Linked DNA regions of Homo sapiens. The protein of the gene in region 1 interacts with the protein of each later gene in a pairwise test. Each region holds a gene or a part of one and is shown in the gene's direction. Other genes may lie near its edges.

What was found. The genes of interacting proteins can lie anywhere in the genome.
Region 2: the proteins of GPX8 (region 1) and SCARB2 interact in binary tests that used the Homo sapiens proteins (3 or more experiments, as listed by UniProt).
Region 3: the proteins of GPX8 (region 1) and SLC41A2 interact in binary tests that used the Homo sapiens proteins (3 or more experiments, as listed by UniProt).

The regions. Positions count from the first base shown.
Region 1 is NC_000005.10:55,163,171-55,167,797, forward strand, and holds the end of GPX8 (probable glutathione peroxidase 8), read left to right. Parts: intron 1-884; coding exon 885-1,048; 3' UTR 1,049-4,127; downstream 4,128-4,627.
Region 2 is NC_000004.12:76,174,881-76,183,618, reverse strand, and holds part of SCARB2 (lysosome membrane protein 2), read left to right. Parts: intron 1-2,517; coding exon 2,518-2,665; intron 2,666-3,913; coding exon 3,914-4,102; intron 4,103-7,090; coding exon 7,091-7,182; intron 7,183-7,708; coding exon 7,709-7,828; intron 7,829-8,738.
Region 3 is NC_000012.12:104,800,357-104,809,084, reverse strand, and holds the end of SLC41A2 (solute carrier family 41 member 2), read left to right. Parts: intron 1-3,747; coding exon 3,748-3,933; 3' UTR 3,934-7,284; downstream 7,285-8,728. UniProt on the Homo sapiens protein: Acts as a plasma-membrane magnesium transporter. Can also mediate the transport of other divalent metal cations in an order of Ba(2+) > Ni(2+) > Co(2+) > Fe(2+) > Mn(2+).

The DNA.
Region 1 (4,627 bases):
GAGTGGTATAAATAGAAAAAAAATCTACATTTCTTACATAAATTAAGATTTATCAAAAGGATATCATGGCTGGGCATGGTAGCTCATGCATGTAATCCCAGCACTTTGGGAGGCCAAGACAGGAGGATCACTTTAGTGCCCAGGAGTTCAAGCCCATCCCGGGCAACACAGCGAGACCCTGCCAAAAAAAAAGTTATTGCTTTTCAAAATAAGGTGATTATTCACTTTGGGAGGCCAAAACCCTATCTCTACTCAAAATACAAAAATTTGCCTGGTGTGGTGGCACACACCTGTAATCCCAGCAATTTGGGATTACAACTTTGCTTCATTTTTTTTGGCTTTTAATTTTATTTGACACAGAGTTTCACTCTTGTCCCCCAGGCTGGAGGGCAGTGGTGTGGTCTCAGCTCACTGCAACCTCCACCTCCCAGGTTCAAATGATTCTACTGTCTCAGCCTCCCGAGTAGCTGGGATTACAGGTGCACACCACCACACCCGGCTAATTTTTTGTATTTTTAGTAGAGATGGGGTTTCACCGTGTTGGGCAGGCTGGTCTTAAACTCCTGATCTTAGGTGATCCACCCGCCTCAGCCTCCCAAAGTGCTGGGATTACAGACTGAGCCACGGCTCCCAGCCTACTTTGCTTCATTTCTTGATACTAAGATCACATACTAGATGAGTAGACTCATAGGTGAAGTCATCAAGTATATTGAAATCTGGTTACTCTAACCTTGAGTTTCACTTCGTTTGGGTGTTTTGTTTTTTATATTATGACAGTCCTAGAACTTGATACTAAAGTTATCATTTATGCAGATACTAATAGAAGTGAAAATCTTGACAAAGAATAAAATTATGCTCATGAAAATATGTTCTGGATATTTTAGATTCTTCAAAGAAGGAACCAAGGTGGAATTTTTGGAAGTATCTTGTCAACCCTGAGGGTCAAGTTGTGAAGTTCTGGAAGCCAGAGGAGCCCATTGAAGTCATCAGGCCTGACATAGCAGCTCTGGTTAGACAAGTGATCATAAAAAAGAAAGAGGATCTATGAGAATGCCATTGCGTTTCTAATAGAACAGAGAAATGTCTCCATGAGGGTTTGGTCTCATTTTAAACATTTTTTTTTTGGAGACAGTGTCTCACTCTGTCACCCAGGCTGGAGTGCAGTAGTGCGTTCTCAGCTCATTGCAACCTCTGCCTTTTTAAACATGCTATTAAATGTGGCAATGAAGGATTTTTTTTTAATGTTATCTTGCTATTAAGTGGTAATGAATGTTCCCAGGATGAGGATGTTACCCAAAGCAAAAATCAAGAGTAGCCAAAGAATCAACATGAAATATATTAACTACTTCCTCTGACCATACTAAAGAATTCAGAATACACAGTGACCAATGTGCCTCAATATCTTATTGTTCAACTTGACATTTTCTAGGACTGTACTTGATGAAAATGCCAACACACTAGACCACTCTTTGGATTCAAGAGCACTGTGTATGACTGAAATTTCTGGAATAACTGTAAATGGTTATGTTAATGGAATAAAACACAAATGTTGAAAAATGTAAAATATATATACATAGATTCAAATCCTTATATATGTATGCTTGTTTTGTGTACAGGATTTTGTTTTTTCTTTTTAAGTACAGGTTCCTAGTGTTTTACTATAACTGTCACTATGTATGTAACTGACATATATAAATAGTCATTTATAAATGACCGTATTATAACATTTGAAAAAGTCTTCATCATTTTCAGTATTTCTCTCTGCATTATTTTTTAGAAGCAACTCAAATTCTGTAATCATAATATTACCAAGTAAGTCAGTCTTTATTTTTGCGTGAAAATCCCAAGTGTAGAAAAAAGGACATGAGTATAAGATCATTTAACTTGATTCCTTATAGGCTGATTTGGGTTGCTAATGTATTCGTACTAGATTAGCCACTTGGGAGGAATTCAATGCTGCATCATTCTGATAGCTGAAATAGTAAAAGTCAACTCCAAACAGCCTAAATTCTAGTATAAAAAGGGGGTGATCATACAAGTCCTAAAGTGTAGATCAGCAGTCACTGAACCTCTTAGAGTCACAAGGCATTTCTTCTCCCAAAGTCATGACCTTTATATTTTGTTAGCCTTATAATTGACTAACAAAGCAACCTGCCAAGTTGGTGAAGGTTAATTATTGCCTCATGAAATATACATTCATCGCATAAAAGAATTAAATAGGAAGATGGCCAAAAATGTAAAAAAGTCGTATAAATTTGTCTAAGAAGAAAAAGACCCAATTTAAGTAGTCTGTGACTTGACTCCCAAATTCTGACCTGATGGATGAAAGTGAAGATGTTTCGTATGGCAAATTCAGTAATGCTACCTCAGTATATAGTTCTGTATACGTATTTGGACCAAAGTTATTAGATAAACCAAAAATATTTCATGAAGCATCTTCTGCTTCAGAGTCCATATCCAGCCACCCAGCTATGAATGTATTTAGAAAGATATTTGGTGGAGGTGGAATTTCTACCAGAGGTCAAGAGGATTTGTAGGGATAGCCTCAAGAATGCCAGATGAGTGTGTCAGAAAGCCTGCTCCTACCTCTCGCCAGCTGCGTGACTTTAGGCAAGTCACTTAAGTACCTTATTTCAGTTTCCTCACCTGTAAATTGAACAGGGGTTGAATGGAATAAAAAGCCCTTTGCAACTCTAAAAGTCAATTAACACACTTACTAAGGTGTTTTAAGTGACCAGGAAGGAAATCAGAACTAACCTGGATTGTTAGCGAAGAAAACAGAAGCCACCAACAAGCCTATCTGTCCTTTGCAATTTTGCTCCAAGAGCCTATTAGCAATTTGAATTCTGAGCCTCTAAGAAAACTTATGCTCAGGTGGCCCCTCCAAGTGTTGGTGCCAGAGCACTCTTGCCTTGTATCCTCACCTACGCCTTCCATGAACTCATAGCAGTGCTGTGGCACTGCAGGGGTGTTTTATGCATTCACGTTAGGAGCATGAGCAGAACTGCATATGCCAGCACCACATGGGCAGCAGAGACTCCCCACTGCCAGATGGATGATAATGGAGCTGCACTGGGAACAACCAGGACTGTCCCAGTCAACATGATACAGATGAACATCCTGCCTTAAGTCACTAGCTCTCTCCAAAGCCAGATAAAGTGGGTTTCTTCACTTACATCTCTCTAATCTTGGCTGCCTTATTCAACCTACAGACTCTATGTCAGTGCTGGATTTTCTCCCCTTGCCCTTTAGGTAAGCAGAGTAGGCAGGAGGAGATTTGAAAGCGTGTCATACATATTGCCTTGAAAGAAAGGACATTCAGGTGTCCCTTCGGGGTTCTGTAACAATTAGGCTATGTGTGCTGAGAGAGGGAGCGGAGTCATTTGCTGATGTGCTGCTACCTGTAACTCAAATGCCTCATAGGAATACCAGCGGACAAACACATAGAGGAAAAGTTGAATCTTTCCTATATTGGACAATCTTCCTTCAGTCTTGTTTCTGCATCAAAAAGTCTGGGACACAGAGTGCTACAGGATGCCTGGGCTAAGGACTGTAACAGAAAAATATCAACATCAGAGCCTGGCACAGTGGCTCACACCGGTAATCCCAGCACTTTGGGAGGCCGAGGCGGGTGGATCACTTCAGGTCAGGAGTTCGAGACCATCCTGGCCAACATGGTGAAACCCCCATCTCTACTAAAAATACAAAAATTAGCCGGGCACGGTGGCACATGCCTGTAATCCCAGCTACCTGGGAGGCTGAGTCAGAAGAATCACTTGAAAACAGGAGGCTGAGGTTGCAATGAGCCAAGATTGCACCACTGCACTCCAACCTGGGCAACAGAGCGAGACCCCATCTTAAAGACCCTGTCTCAAAAAAGAGAGAAAAAGAAAAAGAAAAATATCAGGCATCACATGAAAGAGTATTCAGCTGTCGTTCTTGTGAAAAAGGAAAAGGACAAAATCAAATGCATTTTAACTGTGGTAACTAATTCACTGACTTGAAGTTTGCTTTGTTTGTTTTCTTTGGTGCGTAGAGAAGAATACTTCATACTAACTCCTGATCATCTTACAGCAGACATAACAACAGAGTGTTAGAGACTGGAATAAATATGAATTTGGCTGAAATGTGCCCTGAAAGTTGTATTTCATTTTTTTAAATGTTTAACAATTACACTGTATCAATAGTATATATACGTGTACATATATATAATTCTTAATAACTGCAGTGTATCTAGCATATATATAATGGTGGCTGGTACATGTTTAATAGCAGACTCTGGAGGAGGAATCCTGACATACAGCATTTGCCAGCTCAATGTAAATGCTCATGCTCCCTCATGGTCAATTTCAATCTACCACTGGTTTAGTAACTAGGATGCAAAATTTCTAAAAATGTGATAATTGGTGATGGGCATGATGGCTCAGGCCTGTAATATCAGCACTTTAAGCAGCTGAGGTGGGAGGATCACTTGAGCCCAGGAGTTAGAGACCAGCCTGGGGCAACATGGCAAAACCCTGTCTCCACAAAAAAAATCAAAAAATTAGCTGGGTGTAGTGGCACATGCCTCAGGTCCCAGCTACATAGGAGGCTGAGGTGGAAGGATTGCTTGAGCCCAAAGAGGTCA
Region 2 (8,738 bases), on another chromosome or scaffold:
TTTGGAGAGTTTCCAGAGAACCAAACATGGGGAGGTTCCTGGAGAGTAGCGAGCCTGCAGAGGGCATGGAAGTTCTGAGCTCCTTCCCCTACACCTTGCCCAGTGCATCTCTTCATCTGTATACTTTGTAATATCCTTTATAATAAAATGTAAGTGTTTCCCTGAGTACTCTGGGCTGTTCTAGCAAATTAATTGAGCCCAAGCACAGGGGGATGGGAACCCCAATTTATAGCCATTAGTTCAGAAGCACAGGTAAAACAGCCTGGGGCTTTTGATTGGCATAGGAGGTGGAAGGCAGTCTCAACCTGTAGAATCTGATGCTATGTCCAAGTAGAAAGTATCAGAATTGAATTGAATTGGAGGACACTGCAGAATTATTGGTGCAGAGAAAACGCCACACACTTCTTGGTGACCAGAAGTCTCAGAAGTCTTAGAAGTCTTCTGTGTAAGTTGTTACAGTATGAGAGCACAGAAAAAAATGGTTTGTTTTTTCTACTGGAGAAGATACAAAGACTCATCTATTTGTATGCATCTATATGAATGCATTTATTTTCTCATCTGTTTTTATTTTAAAGTCTAGAAGGGATTTAAGAGGTATAAAGAGATACAATATACAGACAGTCCTTGACTTATGATGGTTCAACTTGAATGATGTTTTGACTTCGCGATTGTGTGAAAGTGATGTATTTGGCATGCCCCTCCAATGACGATAGAGTTACATCCAGATAAACCCATTGTAAATTGGAAAGATACTAAGTTGTTGAATCAAAAACAAACTTTCAACTTACGATGTTTTCAACTTATGATGGGTTTACTGGGACATAACTCCATCATCACCGAGGCGCATTTTTACGTACCAGTTTCAGCCTTCAGCTTGCTTGCAGTCTACCTGAGGCTACATGATAATTTCACAATCTAAATGATGTCACTCAGAAGTTTCTAATTGAATGCTAAAGACATGTACGGACATCCACAGGTGGGTGAGAAAAATCCCTGTGCTGCTATGGTTGGGAAAGGCCTCAGAGGAGGTGTGGGTAGCCCAGCTGGCCAATGCCTTCCTAACCTGTGCTCTTAAATTAGCTCTGTTCAATAGAAATATTACATGAACCACATGTGTAATTTAAGATTTTAAGATTTTCTAGTAGCCACATTTTTTAAAAAGTAGAAGGAAGCAGGTAAAATTAATTTTGATAATATATTTTAATTTTACCCATTATAACTGAAATAGCATCATTTCAATATATAATCAATATAAAAAAAGGTTGGCACTGTTTTTGAAATTCTGTATATATTTTACACTTACAGCAAATCTCAATTCCAGTTAGCCACAGTTTAAGTACTCAGTAGTCACATGTGACTAGTGGCTACCATGTCAGACATAATAACCCTAGCTGGTTTAGGAAGAAGGAAAGATAAGCAAAGGGAAAGAAACAAAAGTCACTGGAATTTATTGAACACCTACTATGTACCAGGCAGGGCTAGGGCTAGGGCTAGTGTGAGGCATTTGATGAACAAAAGATCAGATTCTGTTTTTATTTAAAATTTTGTTCATCATAAATTTTTGGCATAAATTTTGGTTTTAATAAATAGTGCATTAAACTATTTATCTTGATTACTACTTGTTTAGGCACCTCTTACATCACTCACACTGACTCTAGGCCCAGCCCTGGCACCAGGCGCTTTCTAAGAACTTTCTAATGCTTCATTTGGGGGCTCTAACTTGAACCAAACTGTGCTGTATATCAGAAACAGAGACCGGGTGTGGTAGCTCATGCCTGTAATGCCAGCATTTTGGAAGGTCGAGGCAGGAGGATCACTTGAGTCCAGGAGTTCAAGACCAGCCTGGGTAGCATAGTAAGACCTCATCTCTACAAAAAAATAAAACAATTAGCTGGGTGTGGTGGCATGCTTCTGTACTTCTAGCTACTTGGGAGGCTGAGGTGGGAGGATTGTTTGAGCCCAGGAGGCTGAGGCTGCAGTGAGCTGTAGTCATGCCACTGCACTCCAGCCTGGGCAACAGAGCGAGACCCTATCTCAAAAAAAGAAACAGGAGTGAACTCCTGTAATTTACTAAGCCTTGGGCATTATTTTTTAAAATAAAATTTCAATTTAATTCAATGTAGAAACAAGAAGACATTGGTAAACAAATTGAAATTCAAACTAAATCTGTGAACCAAACTGAAAATTTTGAAAATACTTCAGGACCAAACCATAACCCAGGAGAGAGTTCATCGGCTTTGATTCCCGGTCAAGGTGACCCTCAACTATTGCACCTCCCTAATCAGGGAAGAAAAGAAGGAAAACAAAGTTTTTGAGAAGACTCTATCCTAGGCCTCGTTTCCTTCCCACATTATAGCTTCGATCTCCAGCTTTTTAAGGCTTAGTAGCTGCAGTCTCTATATAATGTTATATTGGGAATGTTATATTGAAAATATAACTTGGATGCTGAAAGAAAGGAAAAGTCTTGCTTATTAAAGTGGTGTCTATTTTCAAATAAAACCCTTTTCTTTCTTTTAGGGAACTCAGAAACAAAGCAAATATTCAATTTGGAGATAATGGAACAACAATATCTGCTGTTAGCAACAAGGCCTATGTTTTTGAACGAGACCAATCTGTTGGAGACCCTAAAATTGACTTAATTAGAACATTAAATATTCCTGTATTGGTAAGTAGGCATTTTAATACCATTAAGTTGGATTTTGGAAGAAAGGAAAAAGCTAAGTTAATGCTCTTTATGATTTTACATTTAGGAGCCATTAAGTTATGTTGAAATATACATATATAAAAAGAAAAATACTTCTTTTCTTTTCTTTAAAGTACATCTTGGACTTTTTTCTAAGATGTATCAAATAAGGTCTTTTCAAATGATGACAAAATTCAGATTTTAGGATTTGTTTTCATAATTTCTTCCTGGGTGTTCAGGATTAGCAATTGTGCAAATAAATATGCCCCTAGGATTTTTTGGTAGCTAATAATTTTAAAAATGTTTATTTGCCCCTTGTTTTCATTCAGAAATTCTAGCAATGAAATTTGTATACCATTTCTTACTTCAGATTTTTATGTTGGATTTTATACTCTCAAAATTCATAAATTGACACCAGAAATCAATAGACTGGCAGCCTACTGTGATTTCAGTGGGCTCTGTTTATAATGGTAATTCTACCTAATAACGACACCTATTCTACATCTATTCTATACTGAGACCCATGAGACTTTCTTTTTTTTTAAATTAAATTAATTTATTTATTATTAATTTTTTTTGAGACAGGGTCTTGCTCTGTCGCCCAGGCTGGAGTGCAGTCAGTGGCTCCATCACAGCTCACTGAAGCTTCTACCTCCTGGGCTCCAGGGATCCTCCTGTGTCGGCCAGGGACTCCAGGCGTGAACCACTGTTCCTGGGCTGGCCCAGTAAACATTCTAATTCACCTACACCAACCCCTGCCGACTCTCCCACCCTAACCCCTAGGTGACCGCTCCATATGCAGCTGGACACTGATGATGGACCCAGGACCTAGACAGTATGAGGTCCCTGCCACCTAGTCCCAGGGGTGTAGGTCGGGTTTATAATGAGCCTCTGGCCCTGCTTAGGCGGAAGGTAGCGCCACCTTGTGGCCAAAGATGCCCACATGTTTACAAGAGCTTTTCCCCTTTTGTGGTGTCTGGATAACTCAGAGCCTGCAAATGGTCTCTTTGTAAATATTACACTTACAAAATGCAGTACTGGGAAAGGACAGAGAAGAGGCTTTGTCTTCCATATGCAGCCAGAAAGGAGCTCACTGCCTGATTTTTCAGCTATTTAATCTCAACCTTTACATTTATATTTCCAACCCCCTTTGCTATGGGGTAGTAGGAGAGAGTGGATGGAGGTGCTTTGGAGGGGATGCTGCTGTCTTAATATACCTCTGCTCCGCAGACTGTCATAGAGTGGTCCCAGGTGCACTTCCTCAGGGAGATCATCGAGGCCATGTTGAAAGCCTATCAGCAGAAGCTCTTTGTGACTCACACAGTTGACGAATTGCTCTGGGGCTACAAAGATGAAATCTTGTCCCTTATCCATGTTTTCAGGCCCGATATCTCTCCCTATTTTGGCCTATTCTATGAGGTAAGTAGATTTTTCTTTTCAGAACCTCTTTTTTTAGCTGACAGTGGGTTGGGGCACCCCAAGCCAGATTAACTTTGAGTTTCTTCTAGAAATTGCCTAGAGTTAAGTTATCTTATAGAGTGTGTGAAAAATGGAGTGTTTTTTGGAAAGAAAAAAAACTTGAGGCCGGGTGCGGTGGCTAATGCCTGTAATTCCAGGACTTTGGGAGACCGAGGTGGGTGGATCATTTGAGGTTAAGACTTTGAGACCAGCCTGGCCAACATGGCAAAACTCTATCTCTACTAAAAATACAAAAATTAGCCAGCTGTGGTGATGTACACCTGTAATCTCACCTACTCAGGAGACTGAGGCAGGTAAGTTGCATGAACCCAGGAGGCAGAGGTTGCAGTGAGCTGAAATTACACCACTGTACTCCAGCCAGGGTGACAGAGCAAGACTCTGTCTAAAAAAGCCAAAAAAAAAACAAAAACAAAAACAAAAACAAAAACCCTGGAGTGCAGTGGATAGTTGGGAAGTTGGTAAAAGATAAAATAACCCCAGGAAGAGGATTAGATTAGGGGTGTGCTCTGGGATTGTGATGGGTCTCCTCAGCTTTAAATTTGTAGCTGTTTTCTGGCTCTGCCTGTTCAAGAGTCTTACCCTCTTCATGTAATCCTGTAGCATTCCAGTTTTTATGGCAAACAGCAATAATTGTGTCCCTGGGCCTTCAAGGTTATATAAAACGTAGAAATTGTTAAAATAGAATTGTGAGCAAGTTTTAAAAAATTATATGTGTGAGAGACAGGAGTCCTAAAAGTAGGGCCTCACCAACTCTGAATGCATCATTCGGGAGAAGCAGACCAGGCAGGAGTTCCCTAGAGGGTCCTGTCTCAGAGGAATACAGCTTCACAGGACCAGAGGAAGCACAGATTTCCTGTCAAGCCCTGACTGAACCTCCCTTCTAGAAATAATTTCAGGAGAGCCTCCTACTGAGAGATATTATGCAAAGGTTCCCTCGAGGCCCTTTTGTTCCCAGTGGCTTCAATCCATCAGCCAAGTAGATCTTGTTGCTAATATCTCACTGTTTCTCAGATAATTTGCATTATATAACTCACTTTTTTTGTTTTTACATCATTGAATTCACCAGACTGATAGCCACACTATCTTATGTGGTTGTGAGGATTTCATGAGATGATTCATGCAAAAATTTTAGAACAGAGCCAGGAATATTATACTCAACAATTGTTCACTCCTATTATTATAGAGGAGCTACTACCTGTGCTATTTCTGAGAAATCATAGCTACATGCCCAAATAAAGAATTTTAGGAATGTAGTGTCTGTATGTGCCCTTAAGAAGTATAACTTGGAGAGAATATACAATTGAAGAAACCTTAATTGAAAATAGGGCTATATTAATACCGTCTTCTTCCAGTGTAGCTATTCTGGTATAATTGGTCCTGGTCCTGGACTTAGGCTTTTAAATTTGTTATTATTGAGAAATAATTCACTTACTATAACATTTACCATTTTAAAATGTACAATTCAGTAGTCCTTAGTATAGTCACAAGGTTGTGCAACCATTACTGCTAATTCCAGAACATTTTCATTATCCCAAAAAAGAAACTGCATACTCTCTTAGCAGTCACTCCTATTCCTGTCTTACTCTCCCAGGCCCTGGCAACCACTAATCTACTTTCTGGCTCTGTGAATTTGCATATTCTGGACATCTCATATAAATGGAGTCATATAATATATGCCCTTCTGTGTCTGCTTTTTAAATTTAGTGTAATGTTGTCAGGGTTCATCCATGTTGTAGCATGTATCAGTGTTCCATTCCTTTTTATAACTGAGGAATATTCCGTTGTGTAGATATACCACATTTTGCTTATCCATTTATCAGTTGATGGACATTTGGGTTGTGTTCCTTCTTGGCTATTATTAGAAGTGCTGCTATGAATATTTGTTCATACAAGCTTTTATATGAACATTGGGTATATACCTTGAAGTGGAATTCTCTTGAGTATATACATAGGTGTGGAATTTTGGAGTCCTATGAATTCTGTTTAACTTTGTTAAGAACTGACAAACTGTTTTCTGCAGTGACTGCAACATTTTTATATTCCTGCTAGCAATGTATAAAGGTTCCAATTTCTCCACATCCTCACCAACGCTTACTATTTTTCTTTTTTTTTTTTTTAATTGCCCTCCTAGTGGGTGTGAAGTGGTATCTCATTGTGGTTTTGATTTGCATTTCCCTAATGACTAATGATGCTGAACATGTTTTTATGTGCTCTCTGGCCATTAGTATATTTTCTTTTCAGAAATGTCTCTTCAAATCCTTTGCCCATTTTAAAATTGAGCTCCTACTTTTTAAAACCATAAAATAATAATATGGTTAATATAGTATTTAGCAAAATAGTCACTATTTTCTGGTCCTGGTTCAGTCTTGTGTAGCAGTTAGGCCCTAGTAGGACAGTTAGATGAAGATTAAATTTTTTAGTTACTGTATCAGTTAGGGTTGCCAGAGAAACTGAATCAAGAGGGTGTATATGTAGAGATGAGAAAGAGGGAGAGAAAGAAATTTATATTATGGAATTGGCTTATGTGATTATGGGAGCTGGTAAGTCTGAAATCCATAGAGCAGGCCAGCAGCTGGAAACTCAGGTAAAAGTTGATGATGTGGTCTTGAGTTTGAAATCTGTAGGGTGGGCTGCAACCTGGAAATCCAGGCAGAATTTCGATGTTGCAGTCTTGAGGAGAATTCCTCCTCTAAGAAACCTCTGTTTTTGCTTGTAAGGCTTTGAACAGATTGGAGGGGGCCCAGCCACTCATTATTGAGGGTAACCTCCCTTAAAGTTAACGGATTGTAGATATTAATCACACCTACAAAATACCTTCACCACACCATCTGGGCTAGTGTTTGACCAAACAACTGGGCACCATAGTCTAGCCAAGTTGTCATAAAATTATCACAGTTACTTTAAATGATCATATTCACATATTTTCAGAAAAATGGGACTAATGATGGAGACTATGTTTTTCTAACTGGAGAAGACAGTTACCTTAACTTTACAAAAATTGTGGAATGGAATGGGAAAACGTAAGTCAAATGATTTATCAGTGGAATTATTTTTTCAGTTTTCATTTAAACTACATGTCTACTTCTACATTGCTTAAAAATGTGTTTAGCCTTTTTTGGATGAAAAATATAAAAACATGTAAATAGTCTTGTAATTATTATTCTACAAATCAAGATGGTGGTAAAACATCTTACAGATTAAATATTAGTGATTTGTAGATTTATCATGGCCAGGCATGAATTACAGGCCAGTGAAAAGTCCCACTCTTGCTTAGTAGTCATTGAGTGATGTGTAGTAGCTACAGCACAAATACTTTTCAAACCACCACATGTTTTGGGCTATTTGGCCATTGCCTCTATGAAAGCTGATTTGGGCCAGGGACCTACTTTTTCTCCCCCTTGATCTAATTAAAACTGTTGTGTCTGTGTATGAATAAGATACTGTGGATAGACAGCTCCAGTTAAATCTTGCAAAGTCCTGACCATTTAAGAGAATCTAAACTCAAATGTGATCATCTTTACTCTTTCTTGTGCTTATCAATTATAGGTCACTTGACTGGTGGATAACAGACAAGTGCAATATGATTAATGGAACAGATGGAGATTCTTTTCACCCACTAATAACCAAAGATGAGGTCCTTTATGTCTTCCCATCTGACTTTTGCAGGTAAAAGCTTTAAAGATAAGTTCTTTTTCAAAAATAAGGTCTTTCACTGCAAGACCACCAAAAGCATGAGGAATATATGCAGACACACTTATTATGCATGGATATTTATGCATAATCAGTGATAAATGCTGATGGCACATCGAGACAGTATAGTGTACTGGTTCACAGCACAGACTTCTGACTGTTGGTTTGAATCTTGGCTCTACCACTTATAGCTGTGTGACCTTGGGCAAATTACTTAACCACTCTGTACCTCACTTTCCTTATTTGTAAAACAAAGATAGAAATTGTTAACTATGTTAGAGGTTGTTATGAGGACAAATGAGTTAGTATTAGTCAAATACTTAGCCCAGGGCCCATCACACAGTAACCAATATTAAGTGTTGGCTCTTAGTTACTATGATATGCTCTGTCAAGCATCAACTGACCTGGTCTACTTCCAGTCAATAGGTAGTCTCTACATGGAAGCCAAATAAAAGATACTGTTGTCCATATTTCAGCAGAGTGGTTTCCTCAGGGGAGGCAGAGAAGGAATGGAATCAAGAGCATTACGTAGACAGGTTCAGTTATATCCATAATATAATTTTTATTTGTCTAAGTGGCAGATACAAAGGTATTTGTTAGAGTATTTTATCTCTTTCTGGTGCCTAAAATTTTTCATTAAAAAATGCTGTAGGGGTGGTTTGGTTTGTGCAGTGAAACCACCTATGTTATTCACAACCTTGCGAGAGATGTATCAACAGCTCTGGTTCAGAGATGAAAAAGTGAGGCCCAGAAGGCTCTTCCGGCCAGCCTTCAAAGGAAGGGCTGAAGGCTCAGTGGTGACTGTGTACATCAAAGTGGTTAGGCACTATGCAGTGTAAGCAGTGGTCATATTACATGGGACTATGTTTGAAATCAGTAAGAATGA
Region 3 (8,728 bases), on another chromosome or scaffold:
GGATATATAGAGTCAGAAAGGTTGAGTAACTTGCCTTCAGTCAGCTAGTAGACAATAGAGAAGGGCTGTAAAGAAGTGCTTTTAACCACTGTGCTATACTTGCCAACTTGTCCAAAACCATGAACATTATCCTTTCTAGTCCCAAATTTATTTTGCTGCTTCAGGGGTTTGAAAATTTAAAAATCCCACAGAAATATGAACTACCATCAGAGAATACTATAAACACCTCTACGCAAATAAACTAGAAAATCTAGAAGAAATGGATAAATTCCTTGACACATACACCCTCCCAGGACTAAACCAGGAAGAAGTTGAATCTCTGAATAGACCAATAACAGGCTCTGAAATTGAGGCAATAATCAATAGCTTACCAACCAAAAAAAGTCCAGGACCAGATGGATTCACAGCCGAATTCCACCAGAGGTACAAGGAGGAGCTGGTACCATTCCTTCTGAAACTATTCCAATCAATAGAAAAAGAGGGAATCCTCCCTAACTCATTTTATGAGGCCAGCATCATCCTGATACCAAAGCTGGGCAGAGACACAACAAAAAAAGAGAATTTTAGACCAATATCCCTAATGAACATCGATGCAAAAATCCTCAGTAAAATACTGGCAAACCGAATCCAGCAGCACATCAAAAAGCTTATCCACCATGATCAAGTGGGCTTCATCCCTGGGATGCAAGGCTGGTTCAACATACACAAATCAATAAACATAATCCAGCATATAAACAGAACCAACGACAAAAACCACATGATTATCTCAATAGATGCAGAAAAGGCCTTTGACAAAATTCAACAATGCTTCCTGCTAAAAACTCTCAATAAATTAGGTATTGATGGGACATATCTCAAAATAATAAGAGCTATCTATGACAAACCCACAGCCAATATCATACTGAATGGGCAAAAACTGGAAGCATTCCCTTTGAAAACTGGCACAAGACAGGGATGTCCTCTCTCACCACTCCTATTCAACATAGTGTTGGAAGTTCTGGCCAGGGCAATCAGGCAGGAGAAGGAAATAAAGGGTATTTAATTAAGGAAAAGAGGAAGTCAAATTGTCCCTGTTTGCAGATGACATGATTGTATATCTAGAAAACCCCATCGTCTCAGCCCAAAATCTCCTTAAGCTGATAAGCAACTTCAGAAAAGTCTCAGGATACAAAATCAATGTGCAAAAATCACAAGCATTCTTATACACCAATAACAGACAAACAGAGAGCCAAATCATGAGTGAACTCCCATTCACAATTGCTTCAAAGAGAATAAAATACCTAGGAATCCAACTTATAAGGGACGTGAAGGACCTCTTCAAGGAGAACTACAAGCCACTGCTCAATGAAATAAAAGAGGATACAAACAAATAGAAGAACATTCCATGCTCATGGGCAGGAAGAATCAATATCATGAAAATGGCCATACTGCCCAAGGTAATTTATAGATTCAGTGCCATCCCCATCAAGCTACCAATGACTTTCTTCACAGAATTGGAAAAAACTACTTTAAAGTTCATATGGAACCAAAAAAGAGCCAGCATTGCCAAGTCAATCCTAAACCAAAAGAACAAAGCTGGAGGCATCACACTACCTGACTTCAAACTATACTACAAGGCTACAGTAACCAAAACAGCATGGTACTGTACCAAAACAGAGATATAGACCAATGGAACAGAACAGAGCCCTCAGAAATAATGCCACATATCTACAACTATCTGATCTTTGACAAACCTGACAAAAACAAGAAATGGGGAAAGGATTCCCTATTTAATAAATGGTGCTGGGAAAACTGGCTAGCCATATGTAGAAGGCTGAAACTGGATCCCTTCCTTACACCTTATACAAAAATTAATTCGAGATGGATTAAAGACTTAAATGTTAGACCTAAAACCATAAAAACCCTAGAAGAAAACCTAGGCAATACCATTCAGGACATTGGCATGGGCAAGGACTTCACGTCTAAAACACCAAAAGCAATGGCAACAAAAGCCAAAATTGACAAATGGGATCTAATTAAACTAAAGAGCTTCTGCACAGCAAAAGAAACTACCATCAGAGTGAACAAGCAACCTACAGAATGGGAGAAAATTTTTGCAATCTACTCATCTGACAAAGGGCTAATAACCAGAATTTACAATGAACTCAAACAAGTTTACAAGAAAAAAACAAACAACCCCATCAACAAGTGGGCAAAGGATATGAACAGACACTTCTCAAAAGAAGACATTTATGCAGCCAAAAGACACATGAAAAAATGCTCATCATCACTGGCCATCAGAGAAATGCAATTCAAAACCACAATGAGATAACATCTCACACCAGTTAGAATGGCAATCATTAAAAAGTCAGGAAACAACAGGTCCTGGAGAGGATGTGGAGAAATAGGAACACTTTTACACTGTTGGTGGGACTGTAAACTAGTTCAACCATTGTGGAAGTCAGTGTGGCGATTCCTCAGGGATCTAGAACTAGAAATACCATTTGACCCAGCCATCCCATTACTGGGTATATACCCAAAGGATTATAAATCATGCTGCTGTAAAGACACATGCACATGTATGTTTATTGCAGCACTAGTCACAATAACAAAGACTTGGAACCAACCCAAATGTCCAACAATGATAGACTGGATTAAGAAAATGTGGCACATATACACCATGGAATACTATGCAGCCATAAAAAAGGATGAGTTCATGTCCTTTGTAGGGACATGGATGAAGCTGGAAACCATCATTCTCAGCAAACTATCGCAAGGACAAAAAACCAAACGCTGCATGTTCTCACTCATAGGTGGGAATTGAACAATGAGAACACATGGACACGGGAAGGGGAACATCACACACCGGGGCCTGTTGTGGGGTGGGGGGAGTGGGGAGGGATAGCATTAGGAGATAAACCTAATGCTAAATGACAAGTTAATGGGTGCAGCACACCAACATGGCACATGTATACATACGTAACAAACCTGCACGTTGTGCACATGTACCCTAAAACTTAAAGTATAGTAAAAAATAAAGTAAAAATAAATAAATAAAGAAAATCCCCCTACTCTAGGTGGATCAAAGAAAAAAACATTTATCTGGTCCCAAAATTCAAAGCTTCACAAAAGTCTTTATATTCCTGATATTCTAGAAAATATTTATATACAGCATCTTCATGTTTGAATAATCTTTTAAAATATTTCCATTTTATGTATATATCTATCTATAACTACATAGATGAGCCATTTCTAAATGCATTTACCTTCTAGTTATTGGTCTTACTACTGCACTGAAATTTTCCTTGACAAGTCAAAAATGGCCTTATAATTAGTAAACGAATGGTCAGTTTTCCATCTTTATTTGATATACCTGCAGCAGGAGACTGTTAAATAATTCCTTATTTAAATTTTTATTTCCTTCTTCATAATGTCTTCCTTTTTCACAGGTTTATCACATAGAAAAACAGTCTTTTGGAAACTGTACAGTGCTATTAAAATATCCAAATTATTATGGCTATTGGGAGGCTAGAATGAGATCTATATGAAAAGTTGAAGAAAAATTTTAGTACCTGTAAACATACATGCTGTTTTTTTTCTTGTGAAATGAAAGTATTCTTGTCATCTAAGTATTTCTTATTTTCAAGCATGGTTCTTGACTTAGACACATACGGTCCCTTCCAGAAGCCAGTGGTTTAGGCTTGTGGCCATGTTTCATGGGCTAGGAATGTCCAGGCAGCCGGAGTAATCTCTGTTGTTCTCTTCTAGGTATTTACCTTGCTGTGGATTGCTGACTGGATGGTCCATCACTTCTGGAGGAAAGGAAAGGACCCGGATAGTTTCTCCATCCCCTACCTAACAGCATTGGGTGATCTGCTCGGGACAGCTCTGTTAGCCTTAAGTTTTCATTTTCTTTGGCTTATTGGAGATCGAGATGGAGATGTTGGAGACTAATAAATTCTACAAACTGCTCTCAAGTTACCAAGGAAGAAAATACACGACAACCACTTATGGCTCTTTTTCAAAACTCTTAAATCAGTAGTTTGACTTTTGCCAGGGTAATCTTCAGTTGGCCCTGATTCAATTAAATGGCCTTAATTTTTTTTTAAGGAATTTGTGTCAAAACCAGAATGAAGAGTATTCGTGCTGCTTTTCATAGAATAAATGATAATTTGACATAGACATAGATATAAGTTCCAGCTCTGAAATTAATTAGGAAAGAATATAGGATGTTTACAGTGAATAATTTTAAAACCACAAACATAGCAGAAATGTACTTTATTATTAAATTTGTAATGCAGGATTAGAAGAAGCAGAGCTCTAGTTTAGCCTTTCTTGTCTCACAGATGTGCTGTATCCCAGGCATACTATAAAACGAAGAGTGCCCAACCAAGCTTTGAATCGTATTAACAATGCCCACCTCTATGCTAGCTGAGGATAAATTTACCAGTTGCTCATATTTAAACTGACCTAAATATGTTTTGCTGAGCATAAGATAAACTCACTTTTACCTCCATCTAAAATTATCCTGTTCTGATGCCAATTCAATTTCAGCTCTGCAAGTTCTTGTCAGGCTAATCTTTAAACATTGAGTGATCTTGAGAGATTGTTAATGAAAGCAGTGAGTCATTTTTTGATGATTGATTTGTTGGAAAAATGTTGATGTGTTTTAAAAAATGTAATCTTCAAAAACAGAATATAACCTGAGATGCATTTGTAGAGACAAGACGGTACGAGAATGTGTGTGTGTGTGTGTGTGAGAGAGAGAGACTTTTGATGAAGAACTAAATCTTGGATTGCTGATAGCAAAGATCATAGTGCTGTTGGAATATCAGCAATATAGAGTTATTCTTAAACACATTCTATTAACATGTTTTTGTCATTGGGTCCAAAAATTTTGCTGCTGACCAGAATTTACTATTTGTTACCTATATTCTTTTTTTTTTTTTTTTTTTTTTTTTTTGAGACAGAGTCTTGCTCTGTCGCCCAGGCTGGAATGCAGTGGTGTGATCTCGGCTCACTGCTACCTCCACCTCCTGGATTCAAGTGATTCTCCTGCCTCAGCCTCCCGAGTAGCTGGGATTACAGGAATGCGCCACAACGCCCAGCTAATTTGTTACCTACACTCTAATTAATAATTAATAATTTCTTATTTTAAAAAGTAGTACTATTTAATATAATCAAGATAGGAGATTTAAAATGAGCAAGTGATTCATTTGCTCTTTTAAAGAAGCCCGTTGACTTACGCTTTTAAAAAAGAAGTTGGTGGGTTACCTCAATTATTGTTCATGCTTAAACATATCCATTTGTACAGGCTTATTTCTACGTGGGACCCAATCATATATACTATATTTCTCAAATAATTTTTCTAAAACTCTGGCCTATATTCTAAACACTTGACCAACACCTTAGTTATTGAATAGGTAACCATTTTTAAAGTACATGTGGTTCATTTTTTAAAATTCAATCTCTCAAGACCGTTAGATATTTAATAATTTAAGCTGATAAGGGTATCAAAATGCACATTAACTTTGATCATCATGATTTAAGTTGTAACTTTGTGTTATTATATAAATATTAGGTTGTTTATAAATATATTGCAGAAAGTATTCTTGTTAAGCTCTTTTAAATGAGGGGACTGTGGTTTAGAGTTATATATTTTTGCTTATTTTTAAACTTCAATTATTCCATTCTTCTGCCTTATAATAAAACTTTTAAGGCAGAGAACTGAACTAATTATAGAATTTCTCCTTTGGAGAGTTATAATGTTACATAGTGAACATTCTTATAAAAGAAAGAATAAGTTTAAGTTGATGAATATTTAGCTGCAAAGATTTTTTACTTAAAAAAATCCATGAATATCTTTGATTTTATTATAAAGCATTTGTAAATTATTTGCATTTGAGCTGTAAGATTCATAAACATTTACATTTCCCAATGATTTCTATTTTGATTTTTAAAAAATATACAGGGCAAGCTACATTTTTAAAGCATTAATCAACAACTTTATTATATTACACATTCCAGTGCACAAACACACAATATCATTTAATACTCACAGTAGTACCTGTGAAATATATCAGATGGATATTCCTATCTCTATTTTACAGCAGAGGAAACCGAAATTCAGAGAACTTACATTTCTAAGGTTGTACAGCTGCAAAATGACCAAATTGTGAAGTCCCTAACATCCAGGTTTTCATAATGCCAGTACTCTTTCTATGACATGTTTATGACCCTCCAAATGTACCAAAACTACCTAACTAATTCACTGAGAGGAAGCCAACTGCAAAAATAGGATTTTTAAAAGTACAATAGAGTATTACTACATTTTATGGATTTCAGACAAAGAAACCTCCGTTTATTATATCCTGATGGTGAGTATTGCCAGCTCTAAATTATTCATATTTCTAAGACCAAGGAAAATATAGGTAAATGAAAATTTTGAAATAAAGAACAATGCCTTAATTTGTAAAATCTATCATTGCTACCACCCTGCCCAGGTCTGGCCATTTGCCATAAATGCTGGTAAATAAATACAATGACTGATAGAGTTCTGTCTCCTTTCTCTTTTGCTACCCAACCTTGGTTAGAGCAACCAAATGTCTAAAAGGCATGTAACAGGAGAAAAAAATAAAAACATTAGTCACCAATTCGCCGATTATAAAAGGGATGTAGATTCCTTTAAATTATTACTGACCTTTTGAAAGCCTTCACGTAAGTATGCAACAGATAAAATGACTCATTTACCCACAACAATAATCTATTATCAGTCTTAAGTAATGTGAATTCACTGTATTTCTTTTTATACAACATAAAAACTTCTGCTTTCCAAACTTCTTCCTTTTCACTAATTTATCAGCCACTTTATTTATACACAGATAACACTTTTAGAAACATTTTTCTTTCTTGTCCATTTTTTTCTTTCAAAAATAAAGTTTCTTAGAACCTGATAAAATGGAAACTTATGGTAATATGTGTTCTGGTAGGTGTCCAAAAATTCCACACCATAGACTATCAATGATATAGCCAAATAAAGGCCATTCAAAAAAATCAGTAATTGGGATTCCTTGCCTTATATCTATGGTATAGTGTACCCATTTATAACGGGGTTCTGCCATCTTCGAATTGTTTTAAACTCAAATAAAGAATAAAATTTAAGAAATAATTATCCAGTCTTGTTATGCTTACTTCTTGATGAACTAGAGAACATCAAGCCAGTGTGGAAATCTCCCAGAAGAGACTGGGGTAATTTATGTATACATATGATATTTATGAATTATAATAAATTGGGCTTTGACCATATCTAGACCTCCAATGCATTGCTTTACTACTTTTTGACTGTCAAATACTCTCCTCATTTCTTCACTCCTCTCATTATCCAGCTTACATTGCTTGGTTCATCAGTCCATACATCTGCAACTGCCTCTCTCATGCTGGCAGGACAGAATACAAACTCTGGATAAAGACAGCTCTCTGTGTTTTGCCTGTACCTGAGTGCTCAATATGGCTCATGAAAAACACACAACTCCTCTGACAGATCTTTAAATTTATAACCTCAGACATCAAGTTAACCCCCAACTGCCCAGCAACCTACTCTGTTTCTCTAATGACTTTACTTTCTGAGAGACAGGTCTTTGTCCCCAGCACTTTACTGAAAGCAAACTTGTTGTCAACCTAAATAGTAAACAGAGAGAAGGTTTCTAAAAGAAAATGATATTCAGGAATAGGCATTGCAATGGGAATACACGTGCCACAGTGTTCCCACTGCATATGAACTACCTGCATATTCAGGGAGGTAAAGGAAGGAGGAGGTTTTTAAAGAAGGATTACAAATTATTTTGAGATAATTATCCTTGGCTACAAGGATCGACAGCAAGCATAACGCCAGTCTGAGGTTGAACAGGTGTTTGCTGGGCGGATATTCTCACAGAAGTATTTTTTGTGTGTAAGGTTGCAATGGCCATTGTACAAGGTTGTGGTTTTTGCAGAGTCTTTTGTGATGGTTTTTGTTACTGGGCATTTATGCATGAGAAACCTTTCTTCATGGCCTTCTCTGGCTCTATTTGTCAGAGTTTTATTAACACAAGTGACTCCATTATGTTTCTGACAAGTTTCACATTTCCCCCTTTTGATCAAGATATTTCTCCAAAAGCATCACTGACCAATCATCCTGTATTCAGGTGTTGATAGCTCCTGATGCCAGGATGGGCCCGTCCTGGGTTGCTGATCTGGTCCTATGTTAGAGAAAGTGAATGGTGGCTAGGAGTCCGTGTCAAAACCCTATTATCCACGTTTGAGCAACAAGGGAGGTTTGAAGGGAGTGGATCTCAGGCTAAGTCTACCTGGAGTCCATTATTAAGTTCAATTTTTTCTGTTCCATAGTCGTTTGCTGTTATCTCAAAGTGCTGGGCCAGCATTGTTCTGTTAGGAGTTCTACTTCTGCAAAAATTTAACAAGTAATAGTGCAAACTTTAAAAAGGAAATAATAGTAATTTGAAAATCCCTGTTTGCATAATGGTTTTGAGCTGTGAATCTAGGCTTAAAGACAACTATTTGAATGAAACAAATGACCATAGGGAATTAGGTAAGACCTGTTGTAACCATGTGGCTATGTTTTTATTTTGCTTATATGGGTTTCAACTTTCCCAGAGGGATTTATCCGGGTACAGCATGCAATATTTGCAATAGCACAGAAATTTTCTTATTTAGCCAGTAAATAATATAGAGCTATTTATCATCTAGTATC